Regions from separate parts of the Homo sapiens genome. Here region 2 is linked to region 1. The links come from fine-mapping of genetic effects on gene expression. Tissue or cell type: testis. Region 1 holds a variant in brackets; the other region holds the start of a gene. All regions are shown on one strand. Distances are between the middles of the regions.

Region 1 (8,102 bases):
TGCCACTATGCCTAGCTAATTTTTGTATTTTTTGTAGAGATGGGGTTTCACCATGTTGCCCAGGCTGGTTTTGAGCTCCTAGACTCAAGCAATCCTCCTGCCTCGGCCTCCCAAAGTGCTGGGATTACAGATGTGAGTCACTGCGCCCAGCCTGATAAAACCTTTTAAAATAGCTCCAGGCTCTTAGAAATGCACTGGGCATTCAGGTCCAAAGTAAGTTATAATATTTACCAACAAGGTATAAATAATTGCACAATAATATACACTGCAAACTGGAGAAAGCTCAGAGTACCTTGGTCAACCCCATGGGGTCCACAAGGTGCCATGAGAACAGGAGAGTGAAATCACCTCCTCCTCATCTCCACTCTTTGGGGTTTCCACAAATTTTCCACCGCTGAGATTTTTTTTCCCCATTCATTTTCATTTCTCCCTCCTCTGCTGCTTTCACAAAGCTACTTAGAGAGTGGGGATGGGGAAGAGGACTATGCTAGGCCTTCAAGTCCAGTAGCTCCCATCTTCCTAAGATCCTGTGGGGATCTTAAGACGGGTATAGCTTCCCTCATTTGATAAATGAGGAAAGTGAGGCTCAGAGAAGTCAAACTTGAATGACCTGCTTGGCCACTAGGATCTCCAAACAATGACTTGGAGTCACACTGCTTATGAATATGTCATTTCAAAAAACAGGTCCCCAATTCTCAGTCCAAGAGGATGAGTCACTTACTTGTAGGTTTTGGACCTATCCAGCCAGATTCCTGAGATCACAGCCCCAAGCATTCCTGCAATGACGATCGTCAGGCCAATTCTTCCAGCATTCACTTCTTCCCCCTGGGGAAACCATAACCCCAAAGATCACCCGGCGATGGGACAAGACCCAGGACAGAGCACAGTCACCATGGGGTGAAGGAACAAAGGCAGGTAACTCAAGCTCCATCAGAGTCAATATTCAGAACATATCGGGACAAGATGGCCTAGGAGAAAATTCTAGAATAACTACTCCTCCCAACAATATAACCCTGACTGTGTGTGCATGATATTGGATGCTGGAGTGACAAGGATGAACCAAATCTGTTCTTAGAACTACTTTTAGGCAAATTTTTTAAAAAATGTAAACCTCACAGCAACTCTTCTATCTTATCTGTCATTAATTCCATTTCACAGATGGGGAATTTAAAATATATATGTTAAAATTTCCATTCTTAGGTTTTTTTGAACTATCAATGCCAAGAGGAATGGAAAGATAATAGTTATATATTTTTGAGTGCTTACTATAAGCCAGGCACCATGCCTAAGGTTTTATATCATTATCTCATTTACTCCTCGCCATTCCCCATCATAAGGTTAGGAGTCAGTCTTCTCCATTTTGCAGATGAAGAAACAGGCACAATGAAATTAACCTACTAGCCCAAGGTCACAAGGCATATGTTAAGTTCAAAGCTAGGATCTGAACTCAGGCCTTTGAACTCCAAAACTAGGACACTTAGCCATATAGTCTACCCCTTCTGCAAGTGTGAGAGCCTAGTCCTTTCAAAAGAGGGTTGCATCTCCGTATTCCTGACTCCAGGCCACTCAGTATTCCATTCCCAGCATCCAGCCCAGCCCTCGTGGGTTCTGGAAACATTTAAATTCAGAAATATTTTATATATATATTTGCCAACAGTGTTGCCAGGCACTATGCTGTATAATAAATACATGTATCACATATAATTATGTATACATACACAAGCGTCATTATTTACTCTCTGATCCTAAAAAGAACCTTGCAAGAAGCAATTATGCTTCTTTTGCAGAAAAAAAAAAAAATGAGAGCTCAGAAACACTAACTAGCTTGTCACACTGTCAAGCCATCACACAGTTTAGTAACACCAAAGCTAGGGTTGAGATCTAGGGCCATCTCCCTCCAAATCCCATAAGCATACCACCATATCACCCTACCTAGAACTGGGGGGAATGAAGACTTAACGGTCATCCCAGGTCCTGCCAAGACAGACTTAGAAACTATATCATCTTGAGGCCCAACATGCTTAGGGAACTCCCTTACCGGGTAGTGCCAGATCACCATGCGATTCAGAAGAGTGGACAAGGCATAAAAAGCACCAGCATTCAGACCTGAAGAAGGGAGCGAGAAATACAACATTAGGGTCAGCTTTCTTCTGGGGCCATTGCTAACTTCTCCCCCAGCATTTGGGGGGTGGGCAGAAATCCTCATCTCACTGCCACTCTGAGCAGTATCCTCAGAGAAGAAAACTCCAGGGAGGTCTGAGGCTACTCTGCAGTTTTCTCAAAGAAATACTTCAAAACAACCAAAAGTAACCATTTAACCTTCCCTTAGCCACACACTATTGCTCTCTGATCCCTTTAATTTGCCCTGGAAAATAGATTCTGTTGAGTATTACTCCCAGGGCAGAGTCATCTACATTCTTCTTAAGCGTTGGGTAGATCTAAGGGGTGGTCAGTAGAAGTCCTGGACACCCTCCTCTTCCTGATGACCCTGCCCCTTCTTGAGGCTGCTCCAGACCTCTGACATCTGACACCATCCCTCTGCAGGTGATTTCTCTCCTCTTTCTCCATTCCTCCTCCAACTTTCTTTGCTGATTCAATGTCACACAAAATCTATTACATGAAACTAGAAGAGATCCTAAAGAGCATTCAGTTGACTCTCCTACTTTACCAATTCATTCACCAAAGGAGCACCTAGAATATGCTGTGAAAGGCTGTATCTTTAGCGAATAAGGTCATTTGCCCAAAGTCATACAGCAAGTGAGTAGCTGAGACTGGAACTGACCCAAAGGAGAAAAGGCCTCCTGGCCTCCCTTCAATGGTGATGATGATGATGACAATGGCGGCTGCACATACCTATGGATTAGACACTTTATGACAACTCTAGAAAGTAGGTAGTATTATCGTCACCATTTTAGAGATAATAAAGATGCACACACAGTTAAAATAATAAGTACTGCCACTCCATAATGCCCACCGGGGGTCTTTCTAACTTTAACTAAACATTGAGGCTCACAAGACTACCACCGGCACACTCCATATTAGATTTACTTGGAAGGGTGTAAGTCAGGACACATAGCTTGTGGACAGGGCAGCCTCAGGAGTTCCTCTTCAATGGAACCAATCCATAGAACCCCAGTTCATATAGCCTTCCGGAAGCTACTGTCTTTCAGATGATGGCTAAGGTGCAAGGGAAGGTGGGTATGGCAACCACCCTGGCTTAATGCTCACAGGCACCACTATTACTTGTAACAATTCCGTAGGGGTAGCTTCCAGGGGCCCCATAAGTGACAGGCCAGTGAAAAGAGTCATTGTACTCCAAGAAGCACAAAGAATGGCTTCCCACAAGAATGAATAGGTCTCTCTGTCCATTTGTATCACCAGAGGACATTTTTATCATAAGCAATGTTGCCTAAAGGTAGTTGAC[G/A]TACTCCCTTTATCAGGTTCCCAGGGAGTAAAAGATACAAAGTTAAGCGAAGGTCAAATTATCTTGCAAAATGGGAAATAATTTGCTTTGCAATCACACAGGTATTAAGTGATGGAGCTGGATTTGAACTCAGGCCCTGTGGCTCCAGATTTCTTGATCTTAATCACTCTGCTTTACATCCTCACAAAGCTGATTATTGAATCAGATTTTCCCAGCTCAGGTCATGAACAATTTCCTCATGTCCCAGCCTCTCCCAGCAGTTCACCCCAGGGATGCTACAAGGTTGGGCTCAATGCAGTCTCCTGAGCAGCACAGTGGGCCAACTGTGCACACAGTGAGCAGCACAGTGAGCCACAGTGGGCCAACCAACCCAGACATGTCCCCAAACATCACTACAACTGACAGGCTGATGGTTGCAATGATCATGAGGCTCTCAGCAACATCTCATTCAAGCAGCATTCCCATCTGCCCTTCATAGTACATACTCAGCCACTTAGAAAGTCCATTTCCGAGTGAAGAGATCCCGTAAGGAGACATTCCTGAAAAGCCAAGTGAGGTGGAGCGTGGGAAGGAGAAGAAAGAAAATAGTCTCCTCCCGTCTTCCCATTCATTCCTCCCGCTCCTCTCTAAGCCTCTTGCCTGCCCTAGCCTGATACTGCAAAGGGCAAGGAATGTTCCAACTCAGGCTTAGCTTCAGGGGAACAGCTGCTTTGCTAACTGGGATGAGCCAAGGATGGCAGAATCCACAGAAAAAGAAAGGAAATTATCCAGAAGGACTGGGAGCAAAAAAAATACACCAGTGCTCACTGGTCCTGATAAAGACCTGGGGAACAGAGTCCTGAACAGGTTGGCCCATACTGCTGAAGCTGAGTGGTTTTTCTGGGGCTCAATGGTTTAGTGAAATAGTTTCCAAAGTGTGGTCTCTGTTCCACCCCAGACCTACTGCAGCAGAAACTCTGGGAGTGAGGCCCCCGGCAATTTGCATTTGAATAAGCCTCCCAGGTGATTCTGATCGTGCTCCAGGTGGAAGCACTGGCTCCCTAGAGCAATGTGGTTAAACAACAGCCATCCCTGCTCCAGGCCAGACAGCAGACTGAAGCGGGGCTAAAGGGCGGCGAGAGGGAAGGAAGAGCAGGGGTTCATCCTGGAGGGCTGCCAATCTGTTCCACTGTTTCTGCAGCCCCACCTTAGAGGATTTAGGAGCTTATGTATGTTTTCTGAATCCATCTTTGGTCTAGATGTCCCTCACCATATTGTCAAAGTTTGCCAGACACAGTTAACCAGCGTAAGTCCACTCTACTGCCAAAACAAAGGGGTTGGGCATCCCACACAGAAGGGCAGGAATGAAATGCATGCTCCTTCCTGTGTGAGTACCCCTTACAGGAGTACAGGTGACTGCATTCTATTCAGGTCTGATCATCCTCAGCAAGGTGAGCCTGCTGGGCCAGGGAAGAGAAAATGTGATCTTCCCTGAAAGGCCTGGTCATTCCTGGAATCAGTCACCTGGGAGTAGTGCCACTTACTGAGGAGGCAGGCTTTAGAGAGGCAGAAAGGACTCTGTCATCATTCTGAGTCTCTTTCTCTCCTTTGTCAAAAACAATTTTTTTCTTTGTAAAAAATTTCTTTGGGGTCTCGCTATGTTTACCAGGCTGGTCTTGAATTCCTGACCTCAAACGATCCTCCCACTTTGGCCACCCAAAGTGCTGGGATTACAGGTGTGAGCCATCAAGCCCAGCCAATAACAATTTTATTCAAACTGTGTTCCGGTGACTACTGACATTAGAATTCCTTAAAGTTTAAAACTGCAGATTTTGAGGCCCTACCATAGACCTACTGAATCAGAATCTCTTGGAATGGGGCCCAGGAATCTGCATCTTTAGCAACTACAACAATAAAACCCCAATGCACTTGTTAAAATGTCTGGAATTTGAGAATACATGGCCTTCAAGATACAAAAGATCAGGGACCAGACCCAGGCTCCCAGGTGGTGGGGTTAACATGGAGGCAGCTGGGATGGGAAGGCGCTTCAAGACCCATCACACAGCTACCTCAGAGGTTCTCAACTCTGCTGCAAGTCAGAATTATCTGGGATGCTGGTAGAAAGCAGATTCCTAGGCCCCAACCCAAACTTTCTGAATCTGAATTTCCAGAAATCTATGCACACATTCAATCAAGCACCCCAGGGGGTCCTATCCTCAGGGAAGTCTGGGAAACACTGACCCCAGATCATATCTTTGGGTTTTGGTTATTCTGCGTTTCCCTTTAGTCCTTGTTTTAAAGGGCCAGCTTGACCTCGGCAAAGCTCCCAGGAATCTGGAGGATTTTATGCCCACTCCTCAGCCAGGATTTTAGAGGGGGCATGAAGCCCCCTCCCTAGGTCCATGTAGGTGGAGCAATGATAAAGTGCTGAGAGCCCCAAGGGAAGGTGAACCTTGGGATACACAAGTTGAGGCTCTGAGTTCAGATGCCAGAGGCACTGCAAGTTTATTCAGAAGCATGAATAATCTTGCTGGCAGCAAGTCTGGGGCATAACTATGGGAAAAGTACGCCCTTTGAGTATGCCATTTTCTAGAAGAGAAGCCTTTTCAACAATTCTTTTCAACAGGGCAGTTGTTATGCCATTGATAATAAGACATTAGAGGAGGCCATGTGAATGCAAGATCCAGAGACACAAAGAGAAGGTAGCCAGAGGAAGGTTCCTTTCTCCATCCCACCCTACCCTACTGTGAAACACACCAGAGACACAAAGAGAAGGTAGCCAGAGGAAGGTTCCTTTCTCCATCCCACCCTACCCTACTGTGAAACACACCAAAGACACTGGCAGACAGGTGGAATTTCTGGTTCCCTGAGTCTTCCCACATTGCCAAAGTTAAAGGAGAGAGGAAGGGTGTTTTACTGGCAGTTTCTTACTGATATGATATTTCCGCAACATCAAGCACGAGCTCCACCCCTGCACCTCTCCCCCTCTAAACTGAATTGCCAGATTTTGAAAAAAAATAGCAAATAAATACATTTATAATAAATAATAGTTCTTAGTATAAATATGCCACAAATATTGCATAAGACATATTTATATTAAAAGTATTTGTTGTTTATCTGAAATTCAGATTAACTGGATGGTCTTTATTTTATCTCTCAACCCTACCTCTAAGAGTGTAGCCAGAAGTCTAGGGAAAAGCCAGCAACACTTGGACCCTCGATTTCCTCCAAGGCCTTCAATTATCGCTGCACCTCAGTTCTGGGCAGTTGACTCATCAGCTGGGAGAACCACTTGAAAAGCCACTACAAATACAATACCACCAGCTGCAGGACAGTTACTCCCCCTCTTAGTGAAATCTGGTTTGGACCAAAGAAGCAACGCTGGAAACCAGTAAGTTTACCAATGCAATAGCATTGCAGTCTGGCAATGGCAGACTGGCAGTCTGGAGGCATGCCATGTCTTTATTCTCAACTGCATTAAAAGCTTTCACTTCCATTCAGAACACTCCAATGGGAAATAAGTATCATTACTGTTTTCTAGTGGGGGTGGAGAGTATTAAAGAGATGAAGGATGGGCAGCACAGATGGATGAAGGTGGTACACTCAGTATCTGGCAGAGCTGACACCAAAACTCAGACCTCCCATTTCTTATGAGCCAACTCTGAACTTACGAGTCCAGCACTCAAGGCTCTTAACCCAAGACATGTCCACCCATGTCCAGTACATGTGCCTGTGAAATGCTGTTGCCTGCTTAATTCCTAGCCACATGCTCTTTAAATGCATATAATTCAGAGCTAAATATGAACACTATGTGTACAATGTAAAAAGTATGAACCATTTTGTTCTTCAAAGTCCAATCTGAAACTGCAAGGGGATTAGGAGGACTGGGGTAATTCTGGAGGATTTCAAAGCATCTAGTTGAATTGATAGAGGGCATTTTAGAAAATTGTTTTTGTTGGGAGGCCAAGGCGGGCAGATCACCTGAGGTCAGGAGTTCGAGACCAGCCTGGTCAACATGGTGAAACCCTGTCTCTACTAAAAACACAAAAATTCCCTGGATGTGGTGGCGGGTACCTGTAATCCCAGCTACTCGGGAGGCTGAGTCAAGAGAATTGCTCAAACCTGGAAGGTGGAGGTTGCAGTGAGCCGAGATCATGCCACTGCACTCCAGCTTGGGCGACAGAGTAAGACTCTGTTTAAAAAAAAAAATTGTTTTTGTTTTTGTTTGTTTTAATTTGGAACAAACACAGTAGGAAAAGAAAGCAAAGATTAACAGTTGGAGTAAGTGCCTATAGTTCTCGCCCTATAGGCAAGAAGCTAAAACTCTAGAGCCTCAGTTTCCTCATGTATAAAATGAAACAAAGGGCTATGTCATGGGTTTGTTTTGAAAATTAAATGAGATAATGCATGTAAAGCAATTAACATGATTCCTCCGTCAAAAATTTTTTCAAATCTGTGATTAAGTCTAAGAATCATTTTCTTTTTGGCAAAGAACCCCATATGGACATCACATTCTCCAGAGTTTCCTTTCAGCATTTTCAGGCAGCCTCTTGTTCACCCCAACTGTTATCCCCACTGCAGGCAGCTACAATGTTAAGCAGTGCCATTGACTGTTTTCAACAAATGCCCTGGCAATAGGGCTTTTCCCATTAGCAAACTCCAAGTCAGGTTAAATAGCAACATGTCCTATGAATAGGGC
Region 2 (8,102 bases), 53 kb after region 1:
TTGACCTTACTGTTTTAGGCTGGCCATCATGTCTCCGTGTGGCAGCCGCCACTGCCCTAATACTTTTAGAGGCCCTCAAAATCACAAACTATGCTCAACTCACTCTCTACAGTTCTCATAACTTCCAAAATCTATTTTCTTCCTCACACCTGATGCATATACTTTCTGCCCCCCTCCACTACCTCTCAGCAAGCCAAACTCATTGCCTTAACTCGAGCCCTCACTCTTGCGAAGGGACTACATGTCAATATTTATACTGACTCTAAATAGGCCTTCCATATCCTACACCACCATGCTGTTATATGGGCTGAAAGAGGTTTCCTCACTATGCAAGGGTCCTCCATCATTAATGCCTCCTTAATAAAAACTCTTCTCAAGGCTGCTTTACTTCCAAAGGAAGCTGGAGTCATACACTGCAAGGGCCATCAAAAGGCATCAGATCTCATCACTCAGGGCAATGCTTATGCTGATATGGTAGCTAAAGAAGCAGCTAGCATTACAACTTCTGTCCCTCACGGCCAGTTTTTCTCCTTCTCATCGGTCACTCCCACCTACTCTCCCACTGAAACTTCAACCTACCAATCTCTTCCCACACAAGGCAAACGGTTCTTGGACCAAGGAAAATATCTCCTTTCAGCCTCACAGGCCCATTCTATTCTGTTGTCATTTCATAACCTCTTCCATGTGGGTTCCCGCCTCTTAGAACCTCTCATTTCCTTTCCATCATGGAAATCTATCCTAAAGGAAATCACTTCTCAGTGTTCCATTTGCTATTCTACTACTCCTCAGGGATTGTTCAGGCCCCCTCCCTTCCCTACATATCAAGCTTGGGGATTTGCCCCCGCCCAGGACTGGCAAATTGACTTTACTCACATGCCCCGAGTCAGGAAACTAAAATACCTCTTGGTCTGGGTAGACACTTTCACTGGATGGGTAGAGGCCTTTCCCACAGGGTCTGAGAAGGCCACTGCGGTCATTTCTTCCCTTCTGTCAGACATAATTCCTCAGTTTGGCCTTCCCACCTCTATACAGTCCAATAACGGACCAGCCTTTACTAGTGGAATCACCCAAGCAGTTTCTCAGGCTCTTGGTATTCAGTAAAACCTTCATACCCCTTACCGTCCTCAATCTTCAAGAAAGGTAGAATGGACTAACGGTCTTTTAAAAACACACCTCACCAAGCTCAGCTTCAAACTTAAAAAAGAGGACTCTGTCAAGAATAGAGCCCAAAAACTCACCAAACAAACAAGTAATTATGCTAAATCCCCTTGGACCCCTTTGGACACTCTCTAATTAGATGTCCTAGGTCCTCCCAATTCTTAGTCCTTTAATACCTGTTTTTCTCCTTCTCTTTTTCAGACCTTGTGTCTTCCGTTTAGTTTCTCAATTCATACAAAACCGCATCCAGGCCATCACCAATCATTCTATACGACCAATGTTTCTTCTAACAACCCCACAGTATCACCCCTTACCCCAAAACCGTTCTTCAGCTGAGTCTCTCCCACTGTAGGTTCCCACGCTGCCCCTAATCCCGCTCGAAGCAGTCCTGAGAAACATCTCCCATTATCTCTCCATACCACCCCCAAAATTTTTCGCTGCTCCAACACTTCACTATTTTGTTTTGCTTTTCTTATTAATATAAGAAGACAGGAATGTCAGGCCTCTGAGCCCAAGCTAAGCCATCCTATCCCCTGTGACCTGCATGCTTCAGGCAATCCAGATTGCCTGAAGCAACTGAAGATCCACAAAAAAAGTGAAAATAGCCTTAACTGATTTCATTCCACCATTGTGATTTGTTTCGCCCCACCCTAATTGATCAATGTACTTTGTAATTTCCCCCACCCTTAAGAAGGCTCTTTGTAATTCTCCCCACCCTTGAGAATGTACTTTGAGATCCACCCTGTCTGAAAAACATTGCTCCTAACTCCACCACCTATCCCAAAACCTATAAGAACTGATGATAATCCACCACCCTTTGCTGACTCCTTTTTCAGACTCAGCCTGCTTACACCCAGGTGAAATAAACAGCCTTGTTGCTCACACAAAGCCTGTTTGGTGGTCTCTTCACATGGACGTGTGAGACAGGATTACCAATCCTTTGTTAAACACACAGCCAGGACTGTACGTGCTTGGAAAGATGCGAGACTGGGAGGCAGTGGTCTGGCTAAAGGACGTTTGCTTTAAATATTCCCATAAATATTTGCTTCGAGTATTTGGAGACGGCATTCAGGTTCACAACCTGCCCAGCTTTCTGGATCATAACCACATTGAGATGCAAAGAATTTGAGCTTCTCCTTCCAATAAGAAAGAAAGAGAAAAAGATTAAGACATGAACTACCCTTTCTAGGCCATGGAAACTCAGAGTGAGATTTCTACTCCATCCTGCTGGACTTGGCTCTAAATCCCAGGCAAGGAGTTTGGCACAAAGCACTGCTCCCACTGTCCTGGCTTCAGCTGTGTGTAAAACAAGGTAAAAGCAGTGCCAAACACCACCAGGCATGGCTTTGCAATTCTATGCAGTAGAGGAGATACTGCACTCTAGGAAAGCTGGTTGGTCCAACTGAAAGCACTGCCAAGTTCTGATGACACCAGAATAGTCTGATGCCCAGGGGCTGCTGCCAGACAGAAGAGCATTCCTGAAATTACAGGTCTAAGTTGGTGGACTGACACAGGTTCGAGAACGACACAGCGAAGGTATAGTATGTTCTAGAAGCATGCTTTTGGCTGGGGCAAGAGCAACTGTGGATGAAAGAGCAGGTCCCCCTGCTTTTGTTTCCCGCCTCTCTTACAGCATCACAATCACTGCCTGTCACACCCAGTTACTGTCACCCAGAGTCACAAACACTGTTGGACAATCAGCAAATTATAGCCTACCACACCCAATAGTTAGGTGCAATCTAACACACGCCCCTGGGAACATTCACAAACTGTTCTACCTACCTGATTGCCAAAGACAGCCACGGAGCAGGCTGTTGAAACCTCATTAGCCCCGAACCAGACGGAAGCGATGCGGGAGGGCATGCCCAGGATGAAAACCTGGGCCACAGAGCAGATGAGCTGGCCCACCACGGTGACCGGAAAGAGATGCGGCTTCAGGCTGCCCAGCTTCACCCAGGCCCCCAGGCAGTTGAGAGCCGAGCCAGTGAGAGCAATGGTGCGCAGGCCGAACTTCTCCAGCAGCCAAGCCACTGGCAGGAGCAGAGGGATGTAAGTCAGCATGTAGCACATGGACAGCCAGTCAATGGCAAAGGCACTGACACCGTAGAAGTGCATGAAGATGTTATTGATGGAGCCGTACTGGATCCACTGAAAGGAGTTGCACATGGAGTAGCAGCTAAACACCAGGACCACGGCCCAACGGCGCCTGCTCACCTTGATCACGCTGAGGTCCTCAGGGCCCGAGCTACTGGGGTGAGCCAAGCCACTGGGTTGGGCTAAGGCACTGGGGTGGGCCGAACTGCTGGGGTGGACAGAGACGCTGGGGTTGATGGAGACGCTGGGATGGACCGAGACGCTGGGATGGACCGAGACGCTGGGGTCCGCTTGGAGTGCGGACTCCGGCACAGGGGTGTCATCGCTCTCTTCCTGGTTGGGACCTTCATTCACCATCGCCACAGTCTCCTCTGGAATCCTGGAGAAGTGGTGAGGACTCCGGCAGTCTTAAGGGACAGTGGCCTCTGCTGGTCTCTTAGAGTTGAAAGGACACTTGCCTATTCCAGAAGAAACAGAGACTAGAGGCTGCGTAAAAGCCTCAAGTGGGGCTTCCTGTGCTCACCTCCAAGCTCCTGCTCCCACTTTTGCTTGGGGCTCTCTGTTGCCACCCGCGGCGATCGCTGTCCCAAGGCCGGCCGCACACGCCGCAGCCGGCTCCGGACCGCTCCTGCCTTGGGTCTCCCCACGAGGCGTTCCTTGTGCAGGAAAAGTTCTCTCCTTGCGCAGCCACTTCGCCCGCAGAGTCCTCTCCCGGGCCAGCTTGGGGCCTCGCCCAGTCGGGCACACGTGACCGCCCCGCCCCCGTCCTGCCTGGCTTCTTCCGCCCCCAACCCCCCCGCCACCACTCCACCCCCGACCCAGTGTCTCTTGCCTTCTCGAGCCCGGTCCTCCGGGCAGAGCAGTTGTTTCGCCACAGCTTGCGGGATGCATTCCTCCCCCACGCCCCGGGCGCCATGGAAACCGCCCGGTTAACCCCCACCCTTTGCACTGCCCCTCATATTCATTTGCCACCCGCTATCAGCGGACCCTGCAAGAAGATCCGCCTTCCCGAAGTAATGCCCAAAATAGAGCCTCTCCGGTGCCTGTCCGCATGCCCTGCGCGCGTGCACCAAAGCCCGGCGCCACCTAAGTGTTCTGGGGAATTCAAGAGGGATTCCCCAACTTTCTCCCCCTTGGCTTAGGCTCCCAGCCCTTTGCTGAACTAAAGAGAGATTTGTAGATTTCCCGGGCTGGTTGCGCTCCTGGGTTAAAGGGGAGTTACAGAAAACTCGCTTTACTCGCTTCTTTCCCTGCGGACGTGGTTTTGTCTTGGGGAGGTTAGATTTGAACCTGTTATGTGGGGCTATTTTTCCTGATGGATTCTGGGCGAAGACCCTAGGGTGCGGGGGAGGGAAAGGAGAGTTTGAAGAAGCCGAAGAAGCTGTCCGCGGTTGTGTGATGGAACGCTTAGCACAGAGCTGGCTCCGGGCTTGGTCTTGGAAGCGGTCTTTGAACTCAAGCAGCCCTAGTCTGCCACCTGCCGGTCCTAGCCCATTTCAAAGGGCAAACCCTCGACTCGTTGCACTGACCTCTGTCCTTGGCGAGGGATCCTGGTAAGGAGCCCAAATTCTCCCTGAGTTCAAACACCAGCTTAGCTACAATGAGGTGCCACTGTAGACCAAGGAACTCCACCTCTCTGCGCTTCAGTTTCTTCATCTGTAAAATGGAAATGATGAAATAATAGTACCTACCTCACCGTGTTGTTCTGAGACTTGAATGAATTAATACACGAATGCACTTAGAAAATTCCTGCCACATAGTAAGCATTCCGCGAATGCTGGCTATCCTAGCAAAAAGCTAACATTTGTTGTACAGTGCTAAACAAATTGAATGCATTAGCTCATTTATGCATCACAAGAATTCTGTGATAAAGTTACTATTGCTGGCCTAAATTTTATAGACAAGAAAACCCAGACTCAGAGAAGTGAAGTAACTTCTTTCTGAAGGTCCCAGCTGGCAAGAAGAGCCATAATTCTCGTTCAAGTCTGTAATCATTCAAGCTGTAGCCTAGCTATTCAAGCACAGTCTGTGGTTAGCAGCGTGGGCACCTGTGGGAGCTTTTTAGAAGGCCAGAATCCCCTCCAGTGTTAAGGCCTTAAAAAACAAAACGGCAACCACAAAACAACCAAGAAGGTTGTCAGGCCCAACCTAGACCCACTGAATTGAAAGCTGCATTTTAACAAGATGCCCAGGAGATTCATTTGTTTACACATTAAATTTTGAGAGCTACTGGGCATCACTGCTTCTTTATTTTTTTTTTCTTTGTTAAACTTCAGACCAGAAAATGAATAACTTGAAGCTCTGGGAAGTGGCTCTCCATTTTGTCTGCACATTAGAATCATATGAAGAAACTCTTAATATCCCAAGTGTTCGGGCAACACCCCATTTAGCGATCTCCGAGGGTGGACCTGAACATCTGCATGTCACAAGCTCCGCTGGTCATCCAAACGTGCAGCCAAGTTAGAACCACTGATTCCCAGGAGAGAACTAGATTCAAATGATCACTCCCTGCTTGAAGGCACCTACTTTTTGGTAGAAACTATAGAGTCTTGGATTATAATGGAATATTTGGAGAGGGAGTTCAGACTCAGATCTAAGAATTTCTACAGTAATTTAACATCTCGTATTGTCACTATTCCTCCTGTGTTTCCCATCATTCTCCAGGGAGCACAGAACTCTGTTCTTTTAGAAGGCCTTCTGAGACCTCTCACTGCTTCTTTTCCCTCGGTCATCATGGGCCTCTTCCAAAACTCTTCATAATATATTCTTAACTTCATTTTACAGATAAGGAAACTGAGGCCTGGAGAGGCGGGTGTGTTACTCAGCGTCCTATAGTGAAATAGCATCAGAACAAGCAGCAATAAAATGGGTGCTCCTTCCACGTGGCCTTTCCCATGAGCTCTTCTGGGGCAGCCCTTCAGCTTGGTGAGAGATTCCAAGGGGTCTAACCTGGGATTCAAGTGAGATTTGGAATTGCTTTTGTGGTGGAACGAGCTGGATCTGTTGTGAGATCTGGGTTGGGTCTGCTTAGACTTGAAGCTCTGTTTTGTCATTCTTAGCTTTGGTATCTTGAGCAAGTCACTTGACCTCTCTATTCTTCAGTTTCTGAATCTATCAAATAAGGATTAAAAATACCTGCCTCCAGCCTGGCACGGTGGCTCACACTTGTAATCTCAGCACTTCGGGATGCCGAGATGGGTGGATCACTTGAGGTCAGGAGTTCAAGACCACCCTGGCCAACATGGTGAAACCCCGTCTCTACTAAAAATACAAAAATTAGCCAGGTGTGGTGGCACATGCCTGTAATCTCAGCTACTTGGGAGGCTGAGGCAGGAGAATCACTTGAACCTGGGAGGCAGAGGCTGCAGTGAGCTGAGATGGCACTACTGCATTCCAGCCTGAGAGACAGAGCGAGACTCTGTCTCAAAAACAAAAAAACAAAACAAACAAAAACCTGCCTCATAGAATTGCTGTGAGAATTAAACAAGCTAATATGCATAAACTGTTTTCAATAATAATGATCATATTCTGGGAGCCACCAGGGTAGGGATGACTCTTGGCTGATTCCTAATGTGGGGGGTAGGGTGTTGGGGTCATCTCTATAAATATTGGGTAGATACTACATAGAGAGAAATATTCTGTATTCATCCCATTGAAAAAACATGTATTGAGCAGCTTACTATGTAGCATATCTATCTTTATGATGTTCTTACTATGTAGCATATCTATCTTTATGATGTTCTATCTATCAGTACCTATAGGTACACTTTGAAGGGTAAGGAGAAATACATTTTAGGGATTGCTTCCTGAAAGGGGGCTCTGGTTCCTGGTTCCTGGCTCTATTCCAACTGACACCTTAGGAAGCTTGAGGGAACGAACCTCTGGCATTGAACTCAAGCTTGTGTGGCCTCTTGCAGAATGATAGTTAAGTCAGCCCACTGGAGGCTATCAGCAACTCCTGGATTCAAAGCCAAAACATCACCCTCTTATTTATAGCTTACTACTAGCCAAACAGAGCTATAGATTTAAGAGGTAAGGAGTTTGTTGAGTGCAGGGGAAGGCCAAATTTCTAACAGAATGAATCAGGTTGGGAGCCGGCATTATTCTTTCTTAAAAATATCAACACTTGGAATTTGTGAAAATGTTGCCCTTACAAGTTTTACATGCATAATTTATATGTGTGATACTACATGCTCATCAATATTCTGTTTGCCTTATCTCCCCCACTTCCCTCAGATTTCTAGCTGTCTCAGGACTTGTGGATATTTTTGTATATTTTGGAGTGTTTAGTGAGATAAACTATGTAACACACGCTCTCAATACGTATCTGTAGAATTGAGTTGTACTGCATATCACCATGAAATTTTACAAAACTGGAGACAAAGAGGAGATCCAACAGGATTTCAGAGATTTTAAAAAATCAGAAAAAGTTAAAAAAAAAAAACCAGATACAAAATATCAACACAGTTGCCTCAAGCCTGGAAATTTGAAGTCAGTGGAACAATGCCTTCTGAAGAAAAACCGTTTCTTACCTAGAATGCTATATCCAAACTACCAAAAAATCAGTTTGAGAAGAGAGTGAAACAACAAATGATACTGCCTTATCTTCTCTCTCAGGAAGCTGCTGAAGGATGTGCTCCACCAAAACAAGGAAGGAAACCTAGAGAGGGGAAGAGGTTAAGGCTGAGGAAACCGGGAATCCGCCACAAAAGGCAAACAATGGGAATCACCCAGCTAAAGGAAACTCCTGGGTAGACAGCTATCTACCAGGCATAAAAAGCAGTGTACTCGGCTGGTCGTGGTGGCTCATGCCTGTAATCCCAGCACTTTGGGAGGCTGAGGCGGGTGGA

The links. PIP is the estimated chance that this variant, and not a neighbour inherited with it, causes the effect.
Region 2: FLVCR2 starts here. The variant in region 1 is fine-mapped to the expression of FLVCR2 in testis (GTEx, PIP above 0.99).

Annotation. Positions count from the first base shown.
Region 1 is chr14:75,627,633-75,635,734 of GRCh38, reverse strand. FLVCR2 (FLVCR choline and putative heme transporter 2) reads right to left here. Exons shown (of 10, transcript NM_017791.3): 4 at 2,039-2,106; 5 at 722-825. Among named protein-coding and RNA genes, the nearest start is that of ERG28, 29 kb to the left of the region's middle. The variant G/A (reference allele first, on the strand shown) is at 3,425.
Region 2 is chr14:75,574,480-75,582,581 of GRCh38, reverse strand. FLVCR2 (FLVCR choline and putative heme transporter 2) reads right to left here and starts at 3,962. Exons shown (of 10, transcript NM_017791.3): 1 at 2,941-3,962. The coding sequence starts at 3,609. FLVCR2-AS1 (FLVCR2 antisense RNA 1) reads left to right here and starts at 2,994. Exons shown (of 3, transcript NR_110552.1): 1 at 2,994-4,805; 2 at 6,037-6,177; 3 at 7,489-7,681. RefSeq lists a silencer at 4,017-4,086 and an enhancer at 4,797-4,856.